Homo sapiens: one gene and its partners. The protein of the gene in region 4 interacts with the protein of the main gene of each other region in a biochemical or structural test. Each region holds a gene or a part of one and is shown on either strand. Other genes may lie near its edges.

What was found.
Region 1: the proteins of KHDRBS1 (region 4) and MYO1C interact in a test that uses a peptide from one of them, tested with the Homo sapiens proteins (one study listed by BioGRID).
Region 2: the proteins of KHDRBS1 (region 4) and SNX9 interact in a test that uses a peptide from one of them, tested with the Homo sapiens proteins (one study listed by BioGRID).
Region 3: the proteins of KHDRBS1 (region 4) and BTK interact in a test that uses a peptide from one of them, tested with the Homo sapiens proteins (one study listed by BioGRID).
Region 5: the proteins of KHDRBS1 (region 4) and SNX30 interact in a test that uses a peptide from one of them, tested with the Homo sapiens proteins (one study listed by BioGRID).
Region 6: the proteins of KHDRBS1 (region 4) and ZDHHC6 interact in a test that uses a peptide from one of them, tested with the Homo sapiens proteins (one study listed by BioGRID).
Region 7: the proteins of KHDRBS1 (region 4) and ITSN2 interact in a test that uses a peptide from one of them, tested with the Homo sapiens proteins (one study listed by BioGRID).

The regions. Positions count from the first base shown.
Region 1 is NC_000017.11:1,466,187-1,468,686, forward strand, and holds part of MYO1C (unconventional myosin-Ic), read right to left. Parts: intron 2,311-2,500; coding exon 2,217-2,310; intron 2,123-2,216; coding exon 2,067-2,122; intron 1,938-2,066; coding exon 1,802-1,937; intron 1,725-1,801; coding exon 1,654-1,724; intron 1,392-1,653; coding exon 1,294-1,391; intron 1,156-1,293; coding exon 1,056-1,155; intron 1-1,055.
Region 2 is NC_000006.12:157,903,246-157,906,745, forward strand, and holds part of SNX9 (sorting nexin-9), read left to right. Parts: intron 1-2,882; coding exon 2,883-2,967; intron 2,968-3,500. UniProt on the Homo sapiens protein: Involved in endocytosis and intracellular vesicle trafficking, both during interphase and at the end of mitosis. Required for efficient progress through mitosis and cytokinesis. Required for normal formation of the cleavage furrow at the end of mitosis.
Region 3 is NC_000023.11:101,376,192-101,379,691, forward strand, and holds part of BTK (tyrosine-protein kinase BTK), read right to left. Parts: intron 1,833-3,500; exon of another isoform or gene 1,668-1,832; intron 1-1,667. UniProt on the Homo sapiens protein: Non-receptor tyrosine kinase indispensable for B lymphocyte development, differentiation and signaling. Binding of antigen to the B-cell antigen receptor (BCR) triggers signaling that ultimately leads to B-cell activation.
Region 4 is NC_000001.11:32,030,868-32,034,367, reverse strand, and holds part of KHDRBS1 (KH domain-containing, RNA-binding, signal transduction-associated protein 1), read right to left. Parts: intron 2,845-3,500; coding exon 2,728-2,844; intron 1,181-2,727; coding exon 1,034-1,180; intron 1-1,033. UniProt on the Homo sapiens protein: Recruited and tyrosine phosphorylated by several receptor systems, for example the T-cell, leptin and insulin receptors. Once phosphorylated, functions as an adapter protein in signal transduction cascades by binding to SH2 and SH3 domain-containing proteins.
Region 5 is NC_000009.12:112,753,760-112,757,259, reverse strand, and holds part of SNX30 (sorting nexin-30), read right to left. Parts: intron 1-3,500. UniProt on the Homo sapiens protein: Involved in the regulation of endocytosis and in several stages of intracellular trafficking. Together with SNX4, involved in autophagosome assembly.
Region 6 is NC_000010.11:112,440,415-112,443,914, forward strand, and holds part of ZDHHC6 (palmitoyltransferase ZDHHC6), read right to left. Parts: intron 3,193-3,500; coding exon 3,101-3,192; intron 1,938-3,100; coding exon 1,778-1,937; intron 282-1,777; coding exon 120-281; intron 1-119. UniProt on the Homo sapiens protein: Endoplasmic reticulum palmitoyl acyltransferase that mediates palmitoylation of proteins such as AMFR, CALX, ITPR1 and TFRC.
Region 7 is NC_000002.12:24,312,037-24,315,536, forward strand, and holds part of ITSN2 (intersectin-2), read right to left. Parts: intron 3,189-3,500; coding exon 3,096-3,188; intron 1,488-3,095; coding exon 1,424-1,487; intron 340-1,423; coding exon 176-339; intron 1-175.

The DNA of each region.
Region 1 (2,500 bases), on a different chromosome or scaffold from region 4:
CTCATTTTGTCACCCAGGCTGGAGTGCAGTGGTGAGATCTTGGGTCTCATTGCAGCCTCAACCTCCTGGGCTCAAGCAATCCTCTCATCTCAGGCTTCTGAGCAACTGGGACTACAGGCATACGCCACCACACCAGGCTAACTTTTTTGTATACAAATTCTGAGATGGAATTTTGCTCTTGTTGCCCAGGGTAGAGTGTAATGGCGCAATCTCGGCTCACCGCAACCTCCACCTCCCGGGTTTAAGCGATTCTCCTGCCTCAGCCTCCCAAGTAGCTGGGATTACAGGCATGCGCCACCACACTCGGCTAATTTTGTATTTTAGTAGAGATGGGGTTTCTCCAGTTGGTCAGGCTGGTTTCGAACTCCCAACCTCAGGTGATCCACTTGCCTTCGCCTCCCAAAGTGCTGGGATTACAGGCGTGAGCCACTGTGCCTGGCCTTTTTTTTTTTTTTTGAGATGACATCTCACTCTGTTCCCCAGGCCTGGAGTGCAGTGGCATGATATCAGCTCACTGCAATCTCCACCTCCTGGGTTCAAGCAATTCTCCCGCCTCAGCCCCCACTAGTAGCTGGTATTACAGGCGTGCACCACCACGCCCGGCTAATTTTTGTGTTATTAGTAGAGATGGGGTTTCACGATGTTGGCCAGGCTGGTCTCGAACTCCTGATCTCGGGTGATCCACACACCTCGGCCTCCCAAAGTGCTGGGATTAAAGGTGTGAGCCACTGCACCCAGCCTTTTGCATTTTTTTAGTAGATGGGTTTTGCCATGTTGGCCAGGCTGGTTTCAAACTCCTGGCCTCTGGTGATCCACCCGCCTCAGCCTCCCAAAGTGCTGGGATTATAGGCATGAGCCACCGTGCTGCCACCTTTACAACTTTCTGCACTGAGGGGCTCTCTCTGGCCCTCATGGGTGGGCCAAGGGATGGAAGAGGTGGTATGATGGCCTCTGGATGAAGGCCCATGGTGAGGTGCCTGGGCTCTGCCAAGCACAGCCAAGGAAGGCTTGGCTATCACAGCCAGGCCATAAGCGGGAAAGCAGGCCCCACTCACCACAGCCAGGTGCCCGTTCTTGGCCTTGGTGATGAGCAGCTCCGAGCCGGGTGTGAAGTCAATGGTGCCATCCCTGCCGGGGCCCCCTGCAAACGTGATGCTGGGGGAACGGGGTGGGTGAGGGTTTTTCCATGGAGGCAGACCCCCAACCCTAAGGTGGACCCCCACCCTGTCCCTGGGTGCCCACACAGCCCCCTCGCCACCCCCGCCCTGTCCCCGGGGGCCGCCCGCGCCTCACCTGCCCTGGTTGATGTTGATGCTGTTCACGCGGTTGGCACTGAGGGCTGTCTTGGTCAGCGTCTCAATCACGTGGTCACTCTGCAGCACCACATCTCCCTGGGGGGCCAGGCAGGAGGAGGGGTCAGGCCCTGCCCAGAACTTGAGGAACCCCCGCCCCACCTCCCCATCCACCTCCTGACCCCCAAATCCACCCCCATCCACCCTCCCACCTCCCCATCCACCTCCTGACCCCCCAATCTACCCCCATCCACCCTCCCACCTCCCCATCCACCCCCACACCCCCTATTCCCCCATCCACCCCACCTCCCCATCTACCTCCCCCATCCCCCACCACTCCTCCCCATCCATGAAAAGGCACCTTTTGCTTATTGTCCGCACGCTGTACATGAAGCACAAAAAGACTGTCGCTCAGGCTGCTGACAGAGATTCCTGAGGGGAGAGGGCAAAGGTCAGAGGTCGAGGGTCAGAGCAGGGCCCTCCCCCTGCAGCCCTGGACCCTGGCTGACCGGTCAGGTTGGCGTAATCAATCCTCTGCTTGACTTTGGCGTCCTCCACGATGACGACGGCGTTGGGCGTGAGCAGCAGCTGCCGGGAGCGAGGCTTGTAGCCCTTGCGGTCGTATTTCACAACAGGCACCGCATACTGGGGACAGAGGCCAGGCTGAAGGGGCTGGGGAGAGGCTCCCAAGGCTCCGCCCCTGCCCTGACCTGCCTTCAGCTCTCAGGCAGTAGCACCGTGCTGCTGGACTCAGGGCTGCAGGCAGGCTCTTACCTGAATGGGCTCAGAGCCCAAGGCCTGCAGCACTCGGGGGCTGATCTCATCTGTACCTGCAACTCAGATGGCGGGGAGGGAAGTCAGTGGAGGCAATGGGGGACCAGGATGGTGACGAAAGGTCTGAGTGCTGGAAAGTCAGGGGCTCACCAAGCCGAGTGCTGATGAAGAGCCTGGGTACACTCTGAGGGTAATTATCCTTCTTGCCCTTGAAGATCTCACTAGCCACGGCCTTCTGCTGCAGCTGAGGAGACAAGGGGGGTGAGGAGAGTGTCATGGTGGGGAGCACCATCTTGGGGGGGCAGAGCCAGCCTTAGGACCTGAGACAGCCTCCCTCACCCGCTTGCTGGTCCCTCTCTGGCTCAGCACCAGGAGGCTGAGCCCTGCCCCCCACACGCCCATCAACCCTCCACTTCCTGACCCTCTGCCGCCAC
Region 2 (3,500 bases), on a different chromosome or scaffold from region 4:
TGTGTCTGGAAAAATTAAAAACATAACATTTGACATATATTTAGACATCAAGATCTAGGTCTAGATCTAGTTTAATAAGTCCTACAAGTTCTCCAAAGTATATTTAAATAGCTTCAGTGATTAAATGAGTTCTCTTTTGACTGCACACTTTTGCTGCCTCTTACCCAGTTTCTTCCATTATATATTTTCCTGCTCAATTGCATGCATAATAAAGTGAATAATTCTCTGTCTTGTTAGTCAACTGTGTCTTGTTTCAGAGTCAAATTTGAAGTTTTCAGTCATGGTCAGTAGTGATGTGCATCATTGTCAGCTGTTCTTTAAATGTGAATATAAAGTATATTGAAAATTCATATAAATTAGCCCCATTTTGAAAACGAAGGAAGCAGAGACTGAGAAAAATGAGTGGCCACGTTTTCATGGCTGATGAGTGAGGTTCCAGCTCATGCCTGGGGGTCTCTGACTCTGGTTTTTGGTGCTCTCCTCTGCTCCACACTTGCTCTCTGATTTGCTTATAACCTTAAGGCAAGTTTCGTGACCTGTTGGAACCTCAGTTTCTTCATCTCGAAAGCAAGGAGGTTGGCTTTAAGAATTCTTTCTGCTCTAAAATATCATTCCAGGCTGAAACCACATTAAAGCAGTCCTAACTTGAACCTGTGCCTCTGAGGCATCTCTGTCTCTCTGTAGTGCTGTGAACGATTTAACACCCTGTGTATTTGTATTTAACTAAACTGTATAAATGAGTCACTTAAACTTAAAACAATTATAAAAAATGTTTTTAAGTATTAACACTTTTTCAGCAATTAATCCATTTTATATGACAGCTGTATTCTAGTCATGGAACATAAATCTTATACTAGAAAAAGAGATCTGAAATTAAATATACTTGAGCACTATAAGAATTCACCTTGGGCCAGGTGCAGTGCCTCATGTCTGTAATCCTAGCACTTTGGGAGGCCGAGGCAGGCAGATCACGAGGTCAGGAATTCGAGACCAGCCTGGCCAACATGGTGAAACCTCAATCTGTACCAAAAATATAAAAAAGTAGCTGGGCGTGGTGGCACGCCTGTAATCCTAGCTACTTGGAAGGCTCAGGCAGGAGAATCGCTTGAACCCGGGAGACGGAGGTTGCAGTGAGCCGAGATGGCACCACTGCACTCCAGCTTGGGCGACACAGAGACTCTGTCTCCAAAAAAAAAATAAAAGGCATCTTGATGATGCTGAAATAATTAATACATTGCTGTCCTCAAATTTTTCTGTGGTCCATAACAGTGCCCAAAAATTGAAATGCTTACAAGCTGGTCAAGGAGTTGTCATGATATATAATCCCCACAGAAGCGCACCTGTAGTCCCAGCTACTTGGGAGACTGAGGCAGGATAATCGCTTGAACCAGGAGGTGGAGGTTACAGTGAGCCGAGATCGCGCCACTGTACTCCAGCCTGGCGACAGAGTGAGACTCTGTCTCAAAAAAATAAATAAAATAGAGTAATTAATAAATAAAAGTGTTGCAGGTTAGCCTAATTCATTAAGCATTCAGTATGCTCCCAAAACTCCTCCAGGTCCTGAAAACACAAATGCTTCCTCTAAGTCCCTCTGGCTGCTGTAATAGGTAAATGGATAGCGGCAGTCAGGTGTGATGAATAGAATCACAAAATATGCTCAAAATGCCTAGGAAGACTCTACCTGCGGCTGCAGGGAGTACTTCCAAAGAGAGGATGACTTAGTTGCCAATGACTGAAATGTACTGAGTACATACTAGGTTCTTTACATAAATCTTTAATTCCCTTATCACCTTAGAAGGTAGGTCATTCTGGTCTCATTCTTCCACAAGGAGATTTCAGCCCCTAAGGCTACCTAAGTGTTGGAGTCAGAATTCAAACCCCATGCCATCCAGCTGCAGGACACATCTGGTCTCTTGTGTAAGCTGCGTTTTAAAGGAATGTCTAGAGAAAGGAGACTCAAGGGAAGTCAGCTGAGAATGCAGGAAAAGAAGACACGGGCCCCTGAGAGCATCACACTGGCCTTTGGCTTGGCACATGAATGAAAGTAGAAGCAATGCGACTGGAACTTCGTAGAAATAAGATTCCTTTTCCCATTGTAGATATTTTGCTTCCTTTTCTTCTGTTTACTAAAAGAAAAATTCTAAAACCCAAATTAATCTTGTCTTTTTCAGTAGCCCTTTGGATGGCTATGTTCTAGCTGTCCTCTAATTTCAGAAATGTCCTTTGGATATAGATGTGATTTCTGGAAGTAGTCAAGTTTATTTAAGTTTTTGAGTCTTAAGTGACCTCCCCCCCACCCCCTCCCCATAGCCAAATTTATTGATTACACTTTGGGTCTCTACTAAAGAGACTTGTTTTCCGCTGTCATGAACTGCTTCTGAAGGCAATTCCAAAAGAAACAAGCACATATGCTGATGAGCAGGACAGCCCCTTTGGGACAGTTGTGGCCTCTGGAGAGAGCCTGTTGAAAGGCAACTTTAATTTGGATGTAGAAATGCCAGCATGTGGCTATTGCCCCCTGTGGCCAACTCAGATTGGCGTGCTCACTACTCACTGCCCCAGGGAACTAGGGGGGCGTTTTTTCAGGTCTGCCCTTCACTCTGGGGTGACCGAATGTTTCAGACACAGTCAAGCAAATAGAGTGCCCGTAAACATCACACCTTCTGGAGTCAAACTGTTCTGTTTACCAGATCAAGCTTAATTAAATGCCTAATTGGCCATTGAACAATCTGATTACATTAGGTTTCATTTACCACAGTTTCCAGTTCTAGTGCACCCGAAAGACAGGACAAGGTTAAAACTGGTAAGTAAATGTAGACGAGAGTTGTAAAATTCTTACAAGGAAAGTCTTAAGACTGATGAACATTTATATTCATGATTAGATTTCCTGGATTTGCGAAACCTGGCACGGAACAGTATTTGTTGGCCAAACAACTAGCAAAACCCAAAGAGAAAATTCCCATCATTGTAAGTTTGTTTATTTTTGTTTGCTTTCTTTCTGATTAAGCTCTTTCTTATACCGTACTTTAAAGCTAAGCGAGTTATTCATCTTTTGGAAAGTATTTTTAAATATATTTAATGCCCCACATAACTGATAATATATGTTAGTGTTGTAGGAGTACTGAAGATAATTAACACAAATTAATGCCTGTCATTATATTGTTTATTCTTTATCTTTCAGACTTTTAGTATTGAACAAATATACTATTTTGATCATTTTTTTCTAAAGTGTCTTGAAGTGTATTTTACATAGTTTTTCTGCCAGCCCTATATGTTTAACTGATGAACTCAATTCAAATATTTATGTTTCTTCCCTTGTAAAGTACATGTATGTTATCAGAATAAGGTACCCTTTCAGATATATGGGTAATAGTGTTTTTGGTAATAGTGTTTTTTCCAGTAAACCAGCTGTCAAATTGAGATAAGGAGCTACCAAATGGAAGCTGGGAGTTAAAGACATCATTGAGAATATCTGTCTTAGAATTACTTGGTTATTGCAT
Region 3 (3,500 bases), on a different chromosome or scaffold from region 4:
CCCAAAGTCACCACTGGCTTTTTTATTCACACCAAGCAACACTTCATATCAGTTATTCACTTACAGTTTATGCACAGTGTAATATTATTACTAATTCCGAACTTTCATTGGAAAGATAAAGTGAAAACAAATGCTGTCATAAAAATAGAACACTAGGCCGGCGCGGTGGCTCACATCTGTAATCCCAGCACTTTGGGAGGCCGAGGCTGGCGGATCACCTGAGGTCAACAGTTCAAGACCAACCTGGCCAACATGGCAAAACCCCGTCTCTACTAAAAATACAAAAATAGCCGGGCGTAGTGGTGGATGCCTGTAATCCCAGCTACTCGGGAGGCTGAGGCAGGAGAATCGCTTGAACCCAGGAGGCGGAGGTTGCAGTGAGCCGAGATTGTGCCATTATACTCCAGTCGGGGCAACAAGAGCGAAACTCCGTCTCAAAAAACAAAATCAAAAACAACAACAAAAAAACACTAAGTAAGTAACGAAAAAACCACCAGCCCTCCATTCAAGTTTAATTAGTGGTAGGGATTTTTCCTCTGGTGGGGGGGTGGGGGTGGGAATGTGTCTATTTTTTAAGTAAACTCCTTATGCTTTTGGTGGCACCGTGGAAGCAGAATGAATAAAGCCAGCAGTTTTTTTCTACTTTTTAAGCAGATTATTGCTCACACTAGGAAAGCAAGGGAGTGAATTTTATCAAAGCCTGGGGGCTATCCACACTGTTATTTTGCTCTTTCCTGTGGTGTAGGAGGTTCTATTCTCATGCTGGGGAGACGAAAATACGTCAAAGGAACACCAGGGGTGTTCTGGAAGATCGCTTTGCCACTTATCTACCATGTGTATGCCACTATCTTCTGGAGGTGGATTAATTCAATATTTTGTAAATTAGATTTTGAGAAAAATTGGGCAAGAGTGCAAACCTTTCCCTCCACCCTGCCACACACCCTGACTCCCTGGTTTAAATGGTCTCTCACTGGAGTGACAAATTGATGAGTTTACAATCAGCCCTTCCCAACACTCAGTTTTAGCTCTAAACTCAAAGAGGTTCATTTTAACATTACAATTATGCATTTACTCAGGAGTAGTGGTAACCAAATAATACTACTCTATTCTCAGGAACTACCAACTCATTGAGAGCCCTGTAATCATACCACAATTATTCTTGTGGCAAATTATAATTAAGTACCTCTTCACAATCAAAGACTCAAATTACAGGATAAAAAATAAAACCCTAAATAAATTGAGTACTGTGACCAGTAAATGGGGTCAGAAGCATCCCAACAAACCATGTCTGGTGTACTTCTCTTAGCCGAATAAATCGCAGGCAACATTTTATCTTTAGTTTTGTTGCAGGCTCTTGGTGGATACATTCCCTGCTTAGACCCACCATCTGTTTCATTCTTGTCCCCTGCTCTTACTTCCTATAAGACAGGTCCTTCTGGAAGCTGCCTCTACTCTTTCTCTGTTTTAGAACAAATCCAGTTTGTACAAGAGGAAGTCTTCCTCTCTCTCAAGTATCTGTGTTTGGGCAGGGTTTAGTGCTGCTCTGACTATGAGGAAGTAAGCAAGTCTCTCACTAGCCATCGCCCCTCTGAGCAAAAGGTGAAATGGCCTCCACCTCTAGATCATTGAGCTAGAGGTCTACCAGAATTGCCATGATTTGGTACCACCTTCTTTGACTGCTTTTCTCCTGTTTCTTATGATCCAGTCCAGACTCACACAGCCTGAAAATGTGGTAGCTCTTCCTTAGGTGCCACTGGTCCATCACTCAATAATGTGAAAGGAAAGGGATCCATTTTTGAGTCCTCCAGAAGGTTGGTGTGTAACACACAGCTCTGAGTTAAAAAGTAGTTAGAGGGTAAAGCTTCTGTGGGTACTTATTGTGAAAGGCCCCATTTTTTTTTTTTTTTTTTGAGACGGAATCTTGCTTTGTTGCCCAGGCTGGAGTGCAGTGGCACGATCTTGGCTCACTGCAACCTCCATCTCCTGGGTTCAAGCAATTCTCCTGCCTCGGCCTCCCAAGTAGCCGGGATTACAGGCGTGTGCCACCACACCTGGCTAATTTTTGTATTTTTAGTAGAGGTGGGGTTTCCCCATGTTGGCCAGGCTGGTCTTGAACTCCTGACCTCAGGTGACCTGCCTACCTTGGCCTCCCAAAGTGCTGGAATTACAGGTATGAGCCACCGTGCCTGGCCAGTAAAGGCCCCAATTTTTTTAAAACAATTTCAGTAGCCTACAGAGTCGGTTTGACCACAAAATATGCACAATGATGGCTAACCCTGAGCTCCACTCAGGGTGAAGGGTGGAAATGGAAGTGACTTGAATGTCTCAAACATACAGACACACACACACACACACACACACACACACACACACCACTGTTGTTTATAGAAAGAAAGAAATGGGGGAGGAGAAAAAATAGACACAGAGCTCTTCATTTAAAATATGGAGTTCCAGTGTTACAATGTCCCCTTTATTAAATTATAAATGCAAAGATTTTTACAGGGCCACCTTTTGCAGCCTCCCAGCTCCCTATGGAGCAACAGAATTCAGAAAGACGAAGCTTATTAACAAGAGTGCAGCCATCATACAAACTGCAGTATGCCAAGGAATTAATAGAAATAGCACTTGCAGAATCAGTAAACTAAACCATCTTGGGCTCTTATCTTCGCTCATAAGATAAAATACTATTAAGAATAATAAGTCCAGGCGCAGTGGCTCATGCCCGTAATCCCAGCACTTTGGGAGGCTGAGGCTGGCGGATCACTTGAGGTCAGGAGTTAGAGACCAGCCTGGCCAACATGGTGAAATCCCGTCTCTATTAAAATACAAAAAATTAGCCGGGCGTGGTGACAGGCGCCTGTAGTCCCAGCAACTCAGGAGGCTGAGGCAGGAGAATCGCTTGAACTCGGGAGGCGGAGGTTGCAGTGAGCCAAGATCGTGACACTGCACTCCAGCCTGGAGTCTCAAAAAAAAAATAAAAAATAAAAATAAAAAAAAAAAAGAAGAAGAATACCAGAGCAAAATTCAGAAAACTACACAGCCAGCCTATGATTGGGAAGAGTCTATGAGATATGATTTAAAATAAAATAACCAGTCAACTGTACTTCAAATGACTACTTAGCCAAAATATCCAAGAAGTAGTGTTTTCTCTTGATTTCTCCTTGAAAGCACTACTCAATTGGCTAGGAAGATTCTGGCCATTCCCTGTCTTTCCTTAGGGGGATGGAATGGAACTTCTGTTCCTTTCAGTGACTTCTACCTGACAGGCATTTTACAGGCATTATTTCATTTATTCCTCACAACAAACAGATGAGGAAACTGACACAGAGGTTATGTGACTTGTCCAACCTCATCCATCTGTAGCTCTTGGTATATCATCTATAGCCCTTGCTTTTTTTGTGGTGTTTCACTGCCTACCGGAGGGATTTTTGTTCGTTTATTTGTTTTTTGGTCTTTGATGAGGTTGATGCCATCTGCCTTGGGGCCCCTGTCATTCTCCA
Region 4 (3,500 bases):
TGGTCTCGAACTCCCGACCTCAGGTGATCTGCCCTCCTCGGCCTCCCAAATTGCTGGGATTACAGGCGTGAGCCACCGTGCCTGGCCCACACTGCCTATAAATTTTTGCCCTATCAATTTTCACATCATCTGACACCACATTTAGTTCTAATTCCCTCATTTAACATTCAAGAAAACCAAGGACTGTATCTTACCTCCTCCTAGTTTTCTGATGAACACATGACGCTTACTCAATTCTACTTAATAATATTCCAAATCCTTCATAAGTCTCCAGATTCATCCTTGTTATTAAATATTCAACAGTAGTATGTTAACTCTGACAACCACCAGGCCTTGCTAAAAGGCAAAAATAGTACCATTTCCTATTTATTCAAAGTAATATTCCAACCAAGTATTCAAAGGTGGTAACAAGCAAGATAGATAAACTGGCCTGTCCCATCTCTATCTAGTCCTCAGTAATAGTCTGAAAAAAGCTGCTCACCTATCTGTTAAACATCAATAGTCAACCTCTTCCAAACTAAACTCGTCCTCAGCAAACTCCTCCAGGAAAGAAATCCCTGAGTGTGCTCAGGTCAGAATTTAACCCAATAACACTAGATGCTATAAGCTTCTTGCTGCTAGTCTCTACTCTCTACAGCATGAACTTCTTGAGTGCAGAGACCCACCTTAGTCACTTTCCTAACACAATCTCCTTGTTCCACACTACTACCAAAATACTCAGCTAGGTGAAGACCCTGTTAAACCTTAGTTAACCAAATATCAGAATGCAGGCACACTGTGGACCCGAGATACTGACAAGATACCGGTACACAATGAAAACCACATTAGACAAGGAGGGATAGAGTGGCCTTGGAGCATAATGCTTTGAGAACTAGGTGCAAGTAACGAACTACCTAAGGAAAATGAACATAAGTGCAGAATTTGGTATACATACAGGTTATGCAGAGACCTTAGTTAAGAACCCCTACCTTCACAACAGTATAAGATCCCAGTTCTCTTTTGCTCAGAAGACACAGGATATGGATTTCCTTACCGGTACTAGAAATTTCTTGACTTCCTCCATGGCATGGGCCATAAGAGCATAAGCCTCACATGGGGGTCCAAAGACTTCAATGAAGACATGCAGATCCATATTCAAGTGGGCATATTTGGGGTCTCCACCTTTGCGCAGCTCTTCCTCCTATGGAAAAATGCAGAGAAATGTCACACCATGGACTAGGGAGAAAACACCACCTTTACCTCTAAGCCAAAGGAACAGCAAGAAATACCCCTAATGTCCATGAAAAACAGTAAAGTTAATTGGTATGAGCTGAGAAGAATTAAACAAAAAAAGAAAAAAGAAAAAAGAAAAACAGTAAAGTTTAAGAAAGTAAAACAAGCAGCCAGGCGCGGTGGCTCACGCCTATAATCCCAGGACTTTGGGAGACTGACGCGGGAGGATCACAAGGTCAGGAGTTCGAGACCAGTCTGACCAATGTGATGAAGCCCCGTCTCTACTAAAAATACAAAAATTAGCCGGGCATGGTGGCGCACGCCTGTAATCCCAGCTACTCAGGAGGCTGAGGCAGGAGAATTGCTTGAACCCGTGAGGTGGAGGTTGCAGTGAGCCACTGCACTCCAGCCTGGGCAATAGAGCAAGGCTCCCTCTCAAGAAAAAAAAAAAAAGTAAAACAAACTCTCAAGAACAGTAATTTGCACAGCCTGCTAAACTTGCACATGGTCTGCTGCTTACAGTTAATTGTTGTCTTAAATCCCTGAGATATCCATTGGAGCTCCTACTAAAAGCATAAAGAAGAAAAACTTAATTCTAGTCTATTCAGATAATAGCTGTTTGCCAAGCATTTGTTTTTAAATCACAGGTAGAGCTGTTAATCACCACGAGCTCTGCTTATCTGCTTATATGGTCTAGGGAGTGGTAGGGGAAGAAAGAAGTCAGGACAGAGGGAAGAAAAGCTCATGTAAATCTCATTAGTTAGAACACACTTCAGCCGTAACTATATGCATCTAGCAAGAAATGACCTGAGAAAACAAACATGTGTCCATTAGACTACATAAAAGGAGGGTTGAAAGAATTGGTTTTTGGACTGTAGCAGGAATATCTCATCAAATAAGGTGACCCCAGAAGGCTAAGACTATTCTGTTTTGGTGAGAAGTTTCTTGTCACAGAGTACACAGCGTACGCGGCTATGGCATGGGGAAAAAAAAGACGCATTAGATTCTGTAGTCAGGATTACTCATGGTTCCTTTTGGAATACATTCTTTTAGTGAGCCTCACATTCCAAACCGGCTATAAAACAAACCAACTAATCCTCAAACTCATCTGCTCTCACATTATTGTTCTCACTTTTCCAGGTTACAAAAAAGGGGGTGTGCTATTTGCATTTTAGCGTCTTTTGTCTGCTTTAGACTAAATTTTAGTATATTCAGTTCCCCTTTCAAGTTTTCACAGACAATCCTACCAATGCGCAACATGCTACTGCTGTTTCCATTACTACACAGTCAAAAAGTCCAAAAGAAAACTATCACCAGGGCACACCTAGGCTCTTCCAGGGTTGCCAAGCCAAGTAAATTAACTTGGTGTATAATCTCTTGCATCCAGTGCAAACTTAAAGGAGCCACATTCTGTACACATACAAAATTCTTGCCGCCTCTATAAGACATCCATACTGCATTCTGGGCAAGTAGAAGGCATTAGGATGTCCTCTTGCCTCACTAATGTGAGCTTACCTTGGCTTTGTCTCTCATTGAGCCCTTTCCCAATACAGAGATCTTTGCACCAGTCTCTTCCTGCAGTCTTTTGATTGTATTCCCTTGTGGTCCAAGAATCTTCCCCACAAAATTGAACTGACAGAAAATAGAGGATTTCTAAATATACATGCTACTATATAAAAACATTTCCACATAAATTACCTCACTTGATTTTAAACAACCCTGCAAAGGTAGAGTATTACCATTCCCATTTTACTGAAGGACACTGAAGCCATATTAATAAAGTGATTAGCTTAAGGTTATGAAACTAGAAAGTGGCAGTTCCTAGACCTGAATTTGGCTTTTCTGATGTATTCTGGTGCTCTTCCATAATACATTAAGACCTTTACTATTTTATTTTTTACTTTATTTTGAGACAGGCTCTCACTCTGTTGCCCAGGCCAAAGTGTAGTGACACAATCATGGCTCATCACAGCCTCAACTTTCTGGACTCAAGTGATCCTCCTGCCCCAGCCTCCAGAGTAGCTGGGTACAGGTGCACACCACAACACCAGGCTAATTTTTGTATTTTTTGTAGAGATGGGGTTTCGCTATGTTGCTCAGGCTGGTCTTGAACTCCTGGGCTCAAGCAATCTGCCTGCATCGGCCTCCCAAAGTGCTGGCATTACAGGCATGAGCCACTGTGCCTGGCCCAGCACTTAACATACATCAACATTTTTAAGGCAGTGACCTCAGAACAGAAGAGACTATATAGCACCCTTTGATAACACGCTGGATAAACTAAATGTAAC
Region 5 (3,500 bases), on a different chromosome or scaffold from region 4:
CACAGAAAGAAAAACACTGAGTGATCTCACTTACATATGGAATCTTTAAAAAAATTCAAATATATAGAGAAAGAACACAAAATAGTGGCTACCAAGGGCAGGTGGGAGAGGAAATGGGAAGATGTAGGTAAACGGATACAAAATAGCAGATATGGAGGAGTGTACAAGTCTGGAGATCTAATGTAGAACATGAGGACTAGAGTTATTAATAATAAAATTGTACTGTACTTGACAATCATGCTAAATGAGTCAATTTAGATGCTCTTGCCACAAAAACAAAATGAGTTAACTATGAGATGATGACTGTGTTCATTTGCTCCACTATAGTAAACTTTTACTATCTATGTGTATCCCATAACATCAAGTTGTATACCTTAAATAAACACAATAAAATGTGATAATATCCAGTGGCACTATTTCAGAGCTGGAATGCTTCTAGGTATTACAACGCAGGGTGCGGCCGTGGGAGAGAGCAGATGAACTGTTAAAAAGGTGAAGGAGCCGAGCGCAGTGGCTCACGCCTGTGATCCCAGCACTTTCAGAGGCCGAGGCAGGCGGATCACCTGAGGTCAGGAGTTCGAGACCAGCCTGGCCAATATGGTGAAACCCCGTCTCTACTAAAAATACAAAAATTAGCTGGGCGTGGTGGTGGGCACCTGTAGTCCCAGCTACTCAGGAGGCTGAGGCAGGAAAATCGCTTGAACCCTGGAGGCAGAGGTTACAGTGAGCTGAGATCGCAGTGAGCTGAGATCGTGCCATTGCACCACAGCCTGGGCAACAGGGCAAGACTCCATCCCAAAAAAAAAAAAAAAAAAAAAAAAAAAGGATGATTACAGATAAGGAGGTCAAGAAACTGGTAATTTTGGAGAGTTGGACAGATCAGCCATGTGAATGATTAAAGCCCCGTGGTGAGGACATGATTTCAGAAGACAGTAAGTTGGGGTCTAAAGATTTAATGAATGAGAGTGAGAAGGTGTGAAGTTGGAAAATGACAAAGAAAACAGTATTGGAAGGTCTGTAGTGGATATTTGTTTCCTGCTTGTCTAACATTTCTTGATTTTGCTCTGGCAACCACCTCCTCCCTTCCCAGGCACAGAGGGGGCTTCCAAAATATTTGTAATATTCTGTATCTTAATCTGGGGGTAGGAACATTTTATTAGTCTTTAAACTGTACAGATAACTTTTACTCTTTATATACACACATTGTTATAAACTTCATGTATATATTCCCCAATTTTAAAAAAATTCCTTTCCTCATTCCAAAGATAAGTACCTGATTCAAGTCTGCGCAATCAGAATCAGAGACTGGTTTAGGCGCCTGACCCAATTTAGACCAATGAGACACCAGCCCAGAGCTTTGGCCAGAACTATCAGGAAAGGAGTGCTCTCCTTCTGCTGGAGCTGGGAAGCTTGTTTATAGAACATATCCCTTCACTGGCATGAGAACAAGGCTGACACAGAAGAAAGCAGAGCCAAGAGATGGAAAGTGACAGATCCCCGACATCACTGGAATACCTTGCTCCAGCCATCCCTGAAGCCAAAATACCTGGGCCTTTTCAGCAACGTGAGCCAGTAGATTTTTATTTTCCTCTATCTAGTTTGCATTCAGCTCATGTCTTTTTAACTAATAAAGAATCCTAACTAATTCAGGGGAATGCTCAAGGTAGTCTCAATTGAACAGCCTATGTGATCCTTTTCAATATATAATCAAACTATGCCCCCCTCCTGCTCAAGACCCTGAAATGTCCCCTGCCCATGTTAACTTCCCACCCCATGGCCCTAGCAATAAAGGCCAAAGTCCTCAGGGTGACCGGCCACATTCAATATAATCTGACCCCTCCCTTCTCTGCCCCCAGCCTTTAACTCTCCAATGCTCACTCTACCTGGCCACACTGGCCTCTAGGCTGCTCCCCGACACACCAGCCCTGTGCCTTCCGGCCTCTGCTTCAGGCAGTCCCTCCCCGGACAGTCTTCTTCAGATACTCACCCACTAACTCCCTCACCTCCTTCCAGTCTGCTCAAATATCAAGTACTCAACAAGGCCTGCCAAATCCTCTTCCTCGCGGCCAGTTCTCCTTTTTCCTCCTTCCATGGCATTTATGGTGTAATACAGTACAAACTTGCTGAAATGTATCCAGTGAGGGCAGGGTTTTCAGCTAATTTATTCAAGTTCCTAGAACAGTGCCTGGCTCATAGTAGGCCCTCAAATATGTATCAAATGAACAAAAAGAATGACAGGAGCCTCAAAGGAGCAGAGCCTGGTTTGTAAAAGGTGATGGAGGAAAAGCCTTCTCTATTTTGAAGACTTCAGAGGACGTCTAAGTGACCTAAGGAGGCAGGAAGTAGATGAAGAGTTCAGAGAAGAGATTGAGGATGTGGGAGGAGGTGTTAGCCACACAATGGGGCTTAAGAATCCAGTATTAAGTTTTGGGAGGGGTACAGAAGTTAGAGGCTGAGTCAGAGGAGAAGCAGCCTGGAGCAATTTACAGATGAAAGTTAAAAAAGGAGAGTAAGGCTAAGTGATGTATTTACATTTTAGATGGAGATAGCCATATAAGGTCCAGTGAGGCTCACGCCTGTAATCCCAGAACTTTGGGAGGCAGAGGTGGGCAGATCATCTGAGGTCAGAAGTTCGAGACCAGCCAGGCTAACATGGTAAAACCCCATCACTACTAAAAATAAAAAAATTAGCCAGGTGTGGTGGCAGTCACCTGTAATCTCAGCTACTCAGGAGGCTGAGGCAGGAGAATCACATGAACCCAGGAGGGAAAGGTTGCAGTGAGACTGCACCACTGCACTCTAGCCTAGGCAACAGAGTGAGACTCCATCTCAAAAAAAAAAAAAAAAAAAAAAGGCCCAGTGAGTTTAGCAGGCATCAAAAGAATTAGTCCTGGCAACCTCTGGTAGATAGAAAGGATTCCTCCTTTGGGAGCCTATGAAGGGAGGCATCACACCATGATTTGAACAATTTGAGAAATTGGTGGAGAGTCCATCATATTCAGTCTTTCTCTTCTACCCAAGCACTACAGAGTTCATTCACAAGCGTCAGCTGGACCAAGACACCAGGCTACCCTGTTCATCGCACCATCTTGGGCCCTCAGAAAGCAATTCCCCTTTGCATAATAACCCTGTACTATGACCAGCCTGTCAAACCTTCATTCCCCTGGCCCAGAACTGACGCAGAATCCCTGTCATCCAGGATCACAACCCCAGTATCTAACAAGACAAAACTGGCTTCTTTTCAAAGACAGACCATAGCACTGAACTGTCCTAACACCCCTCTGATGACCCTCATGCTGCTGAGGTAGGAGAAAGCCAGCCACAGGGAAGGCTTCCTTCTTCTGGCTCTGACTCACCTCTGTGGCTTGCTAGCTTCTCTCTACAGAAATTTCTTCAGAGTTATGAGACCATACGTGTATGCCAAGATTCAAGGAAAATGTTACTCCTAGTCAGAGAAAGAAATTACAATGCTTAGCCTCTAAGGAAAAGTGGCTTACTAT
Region 6 (3,500 bases), on a different chromosome or scaffold from region 4:
AAATAAGCAAAAATAATTTCCATTTCATACTGGACACTTAAATACAGGCTTTGTCTCTTTCTTGTGCAATCAGTCCCAACAACTTGACACTTTTGACTTGAGGTAATTGAGATGCTTACCTGGATAAAAAACAACATCCCAACAGCTATGGTTGTTCCTAAAGCTAATCCCAAGGCAAACAAGGTGGTAGCAAATGCAGCTAATCCAAATGGAACAATTGGAAGAGGATCTCTCCGGGCTGCACTCATGTCGATCTTCACTGTGTTCCACCCAAAGGAGAGCTATCGCAGCAACAATAGCACACGCACAAAATGTTTGGTTATGGTAACTGGTCAGACTCTACTGTGACACGTAAAACAACTTGATCAAAGAGATAACAACGTGGCCCTGTGGCCAACGCAAACACAGCTATTTTTATTTTATTTTATTTATTTATTATTTATTTATTTGAGACGGAGTCTCACTCTGTCGCCCAGGCTGGAGTGCAGTGGCACGATCTCGACTCACTGCAACCTCCACCTCCCAGGTTCAAGCAATTCTCCTGCCTCAGCCTCCCGAGTAGCTGGGACTACAGGCATGTGCCATCACACCCGGCTTATTTTTTATATTTTTAGTAGAGACAGGTGTCACCAGATTGGCCAGGCTGGTCTTGAACTCCTGACCTTGTGACCCACACCGCCTCAGCCTCCCAAAGTGCTAGGATTACAGGCGTGAGCCACTGAGCTGGGCCAGCTATTTTTAATTAATATAGTAATGAGCTCGGACCGATGTGCAGGATATCATTCTTAGTTTTCTCAAATGTTACTTTTTGTTGTTGTTGTTTCCTCAGAAAGTGTCAAGGAGACCTTACCAACATTAACATACATAAACAACACTAGACACTAATCTAAACCAGAACTATGTCTTTTCTCTTCTCTTGCTATTCTACATCGCAGTATTCTTCCACAGTGACAAGTGCTGCCTAGGATTCAGTTGTTTCTTCCCTCATGTTTTACAAATGGTGATGAAGAACTGATAAAATGCAGGCCAAATATGGCCACAGATGTGTGCTGCCTGGCCTGCATAATGTTTCAACATTCAGAATTAGGTGCCAACATTTAAAAATCAAGAGATTTCACATAAAAATCCAGATTTTCAGATTTTTCTGGGCTAGAATTTCCAAACACCACAAGCTAGCAGATCAAATATGGGCTGTCCCCTCCCCAAAGGACAGACTCTCCAGTTTGGCAGTCCCATCAGGTGTGTCTCTCGTTTACTTTCAAGGCCTGTTTAGGGAGGTTTGTGTCCCTTGAACTTTATCTCATGACTACTTGCCCATAAATCAACTTGATCTCTTGCTGGTTTAATCTGTTTATATTTTATGGTATGCATCTGCTCCATGAGCCACCTTCCAGGGCACTAGAATCAGAAATGAACAAAGAACTACAACTTGCCACATGAATGGGATGAAAGTAGGAAGCACTAGTGTTGTCTTTTTTTCTTCTATTCTTTCCATAACTATTAAGTTTGAAGTCTAACAAATTACATATACAGTACTAAAATATTTATCACCTTCAACTACAGCATGTAAGTTTTCAGAACAAATACTCTTTCCTCATCTTAAAATTTAAGTTTTAATGCTTTCTAAAAAGGAACCCATATACCAGTAAAACAAAGTTCTATTTCCCCAACTAAATCACAGAAAGCATATTTCCAAAAGGAACCTCTTAAATGTTGATAACTACCATTTAATCTTGCATGGATGATTTTATAACAAAACATTTTCATTTTCACTTACCCGATGATAAAGCTGTGTGTACATAGTCATCACAAAAATGAAAGCAGCATGGATACAACCCAGTGGTGCTAAAAGGAGAAACAGTGTGAACGAAGCATGATTTTGGTAACCACAACAGTTGTTGATCCAAGGACAGTGATGGTCCATCTTCATCACACATCTAACAAGAAAAATTTACATAAAACATGAGGCAGAAAATCCTGTCTACTTTAAATAACTTTGGTCTTCAAAAGATCAAGCAAATAGGAATCCAGCATGTCCATGAGCTACGAGAGAATTATACTTCATGGAACAGAAAGAAAAATCTTTATGAGCTTTTAAACAATTAAGTGACTCCTTTTAAATTCTAAACAGCACAGGAAAGGGCAGGCTTTCTAACAGCTTCTGAGGAAAAGATGTCAGCTACAAGTATTTGTTTAAAGAAGTCAGGAGACCCACTGAAAGAGGGTCTCTTTATAATGCTCATTATAAAGAAATGAGCATGGTTCCTGGTTTTCTTCTAGTTTGTAAGTGCAGTGACCCAAGTGACCTACAATAGAGACTCAACAAATCCCTTATAGACCTCCAGTGGGGTTAATGGGCTCAAATAGACACATGTAACTTCCTTCCTGTTCTCATAGTATCCTTTAGTTAATGGATCTCTGAGCTAAGCAAGCTAACTCCAGAATATAAGATATGGTATAATAAACAAAGTCTTGCCGTGTACTGTTGATAGAAGACAATGTTTTGGCCTGAAACAAAACTTTATTTGCTTTCAACGGTTCTCTAAATTTCTTACTAATCAGTGATTATAGCTGTTCATTAAAAAAGGTCACAGGTTATTTCATATTTTTAATAGTCAGTTTTCTTCTAAGTTTTTGATATTAAAACATTTGTGATAATAGGCACCTGGATTATTAGATGTGTATAAAGTGTAAATGTTTGTCAATAAGTAATGGGAAAAGCAGATCTCCCTTATAATTTAGACTCAGAACAATTCTAAAGTTAGTCCAGATGGCAGCTGACTAACACAATTAATCTTGATATATGGAAACAAACTTAAGGTTTATACCTTTTTCCCTTGTTCTTGTAGGACAAGAGGCAAAGTAAATCTGTATTTTTCTGGAAAATCTTTTCACTTGTAACAAGGAAGAATTAAATCTATTTATTATCTAGATAATTTAAGTATAAAATGGCGATTATGGACACAAGTATTCTGACAATATTGTTTATAATATGGTAACCTTGCAGTGAATAGAAGTAGCACTAATGTAGTATAAGCAACAATGAAAACATCAGTAATTAGTTGATCAGTCCTCGCTGAACAGCAAGAAAGACAGGTACCTGTTACACTTTCTGCAGTGATGTGAACGTGGTGCCTTGTATGCTTGGCAGACTTTACAATACTGGAGATACATGGTATCCTGAGAAATTTCCTTGGCAGCAAAACAGAAACAAAAATGCATCATCGGATACTTGAATATAAGTATGATTCCTACGGTATGATTTTCTTTTATGGGCGATAGGGGAAGGAGAGAATCTTAACTTGCATTTCCAGTCCTCTTATTTGAGCTAAAATATTTTTAAATAAGTTTTCTGGTAAGAGCAGCATCACTTTCCCAATTACCCAGAAGTCCTTTTAAATTTTTCTTCCTTGTGCTCCACCTAAATTCAGTGTCACTAGTTGGTTCTACTTACCCCAAATCTTAGTGGATTCAGGAGTTCAGAAAAAGGTAGCTGACAA
Region 7 (3,500 bases), on a different chromosome or scaffold from region 4:
ACATGGATCCCCTACCTGTGACAGTGAATTTAATATTTATTATCTCTAACATGAAAATTAACTTGGAATCTGGGGACTGTCATTTTGTGCTAACAAATCCTTTTCTAATACTCAAATATGCCTAGGGATAAAGTTTAAGTAGCAAATACAGGTATTTAAATTAATACATACTTACCAAAACGAGCAGAAATTAATGGAGAAAACATAGGGGGTTGCTTCATAATAGGAGGGAGAACCACAGGCAACTGTTGGCCTTGAAGCTTCAGTTTGATGAGTTTCATAGCTATGGAGAACTCTTGCTGATCCATCTTCCCATCCTTGTTTAGGTCTGATAAAGCCCTAAAAGGAGCATGAGGTAGGTAGATTGCTATGTGGTGTGGTGGTGGGAAAACTAACGTTATTTTGGGGATTGACAAAGTAAAAATGATGATATGGCATTCACGTGTACATCATCACTAAATTTAAAATATCTAACATGTAAAATATATAATAACAAAAAGATAAAACCTACACTTTAAGAAATACTGACCAGAGATAATAACTAATAAAACACTGCCTGTCAAAACAGAATCTAGAGACCTTTGGGCTGAATTCCACCAGTTTAGGTAGAAAAAAATTCAAGATTATAATACTTCTAAATTTAATTTATTCATCTGTCCAAATATTTACTGAATACTTGCTATGTGCCTCGTACTCTACCAGGCATGAGAATATTCCAAGTGGAAAGATGGGACAGGGGTTGTTACTTATTGTAAACGTTTTTAAAAAAACAGATATTATAGAGAATAGTTTCTTTAAAGAAGGAGCAGGGGAAGCGAGGACTAATTTGGGGTTTATAGATTATGAAATAAATGAAACTACAAAATAACAGAAAGAGGATTTTGAGATTCTGCCAAATTATAAGGAAATTTTTCTCAATGATAATGTATATATCTTTCCTTAGAAAATTCTAATGAAATTAGAAATTTGTCCTAGAGAACTAAACCTGAATTATTTTCAATAATTTGCTCAATAAAATTTATTTTCCAAAAAACTGAAGAAATACCTTTTTTTTTTTTTTTTTTCTAAAGAGAGTCTCATTCTGTCATCCAGGCTAGGGTGCAGTGACACAATCATAGTTCACTGCAGCACTGAATTCCTGGGCTCAAGCAATCCTTCCATCTTGGCCTCCCTGAGTAGCTGGGACTAGAGGTGTGGCCACCACACCCAGCTAATTTTTTTTTTAATTTTCTGTAGAGACAGGGTTCTCACTATGTTGCCCAGCCTGGCCTCAAGCAATCCTCCTACCTCAGACTCCCAAAGTGCTGGCAGAAATATTCTTAATAACCAATAGAATGCAACTAAAAACAATTTTATGTTAACACTATATTACAAAAAAACAAAATACTATCAGAAAATTAGGTTCATCTACAAAACACTTTACCATATTTCAGCTAAAACAGGGGCCGGCAGACCTGATTGTAGGAAAAAATTACGTGCTTGATCACCTGGAGGTAATAAAAACAAAACCCAAGCAGCACATTAGTAAATGAAATTATTCCAATGCTTCTGAATAATAATGGGTATATGTTAATGATTTATTATAATTTTAATACCAATCATTAAAGAATAAGTGAAATAGAAACACATAAAAATTATTTACATAACTTTAATAAGACAGATATTTTAAAACAAAAGTCACATCTGCACTTCTATTGTATATTAATCAGTGATGAAAGATGATTCATCTCAGTTTTTCCACAATTGGGGTCTTCCTTAAAAATACTTCCACTTAGTAAAATTTATATTTAAAAACACTATTCCCTAAAAGAGTTTCAATATAAAAAGTACCAGGTGTTAGGAGAGAGAGTCCTCCATGAGTTTCTTCACACTCCTATGTGTCTTGCTCTGTATACCAATAATGTAAGACCCTAATTGCTCTCTGCCTGGGTCACTTCTCAGAATTGGGTTTGTAATGAGCAATCTTAACGAATCCGGTAACGTTTCCCACTGAGACAAGGGACAAACTTGCTTTACTGCTTGCTACAAAAGGGTGGGTTCCCCAAATTCAGTGTTCCTCTCCTGTAACACAATCATAGCATGTGTACTATTCTCCTGGGCTCTCTGCATTGTCTCTGTGGGACTTAGGGAACACTAAAGGAAACAGAAAGATAGATGCCAATGCTCATTTTGCTAGTTATGCTGTTAGTCATAAGGTTCTTTGTCTCTGACTCAGGAATCTTGGGTCTTCCACCCGTAATGGACAAAGTTATTAACCTGTAAGCAGGGTAATCAAATCCTGATACCAGGTAAGGTAATTACTATCATAGCAGTACAAATAACATGGTTAAGTAGATGGATTCCAAAATCAGCCCAAATGGTTTCAAAGCCCAGATTAACACTAACCATCTTTGTAACCTTAGGCAGTTACATAACGTCTCTTAGTCTCAGTTTCACTATTTGTAAATATAGACAACAACAGTGCCTACTTTACAGGGTTGTTGTAAAGGTTAAATAAAATAATGCACTTAGCATAGCATCTGGTATATAGTAAAAATTCAATAAATATCATTGTTCTCATAGTTACTATTATTGTATGTAAAGCACTAAGCTACTTTGGCACAGAAAAAAGTTTAATTAATAGAAAAAAATTTCAAAGGCACACCTAAATTAATCCCATTTTGGCTCTGGTGGTCTTTCTGCAAAACAAGGGCTAGCATCAACAATCAGTGCTTGGTGTAGCCTCAAAGACAGAGGGCTAGCATTAGGAAAACAGATTCCAGAAAAAAAAAGTCTAGATTTTCCATGAAATGAATCTAAGAAATAAACTGAAAACTTTCTAGATATAATGTTAAAATGTGAAACCAGACAATTACACAGAAATTCTTGACTATCATTTAGGATTCAGGAAAAATCTTCCATATCCCAAATTTAAAACAACAAATTAAGACAGTTCCAGGAAAAATAAAGTTAGCATTTCTTTAATTTCTAGAATTCTGATTGATATGAATTTTATCGTTTATTAACACAAATTTGATGGCAGTCAAATTAAAACTAATTCTTAGATATCACATAAGGACCATAATTCACTAATAAAACTAATTATAAATACAAACCTGTTATGTAACCTCCTGAAGGTTTGAGGTTATCAAACTGCCTGTCATGCTTAGTACGTTCTTCAGAGGTAATAGCCCACATGTTTGGCCCTCCTGAAACATAAGTGGAAGAAACTATAGTGTATACATGAGAATGCTTAAAATACAATTCTAAAATGTAAATAGAAATCACAAGTGTTCATTGTATGACAGTATTTAATATTTGAGTGACACAAAGAGTAGAGCTCTATCATAACCATACATAGCACAGCCCTAAGGCTTTTCACTCATTGGCTCAATTAACGTCTATTGAACAAGTGCTATATCACACTCACTGGAAATGGGCATCAAGCTAAATACTGGCAATAAAAAGATGAAGAAAATATTCCCACCCTCAAGGAATTCATGCTCTAGAAAACAACAGTA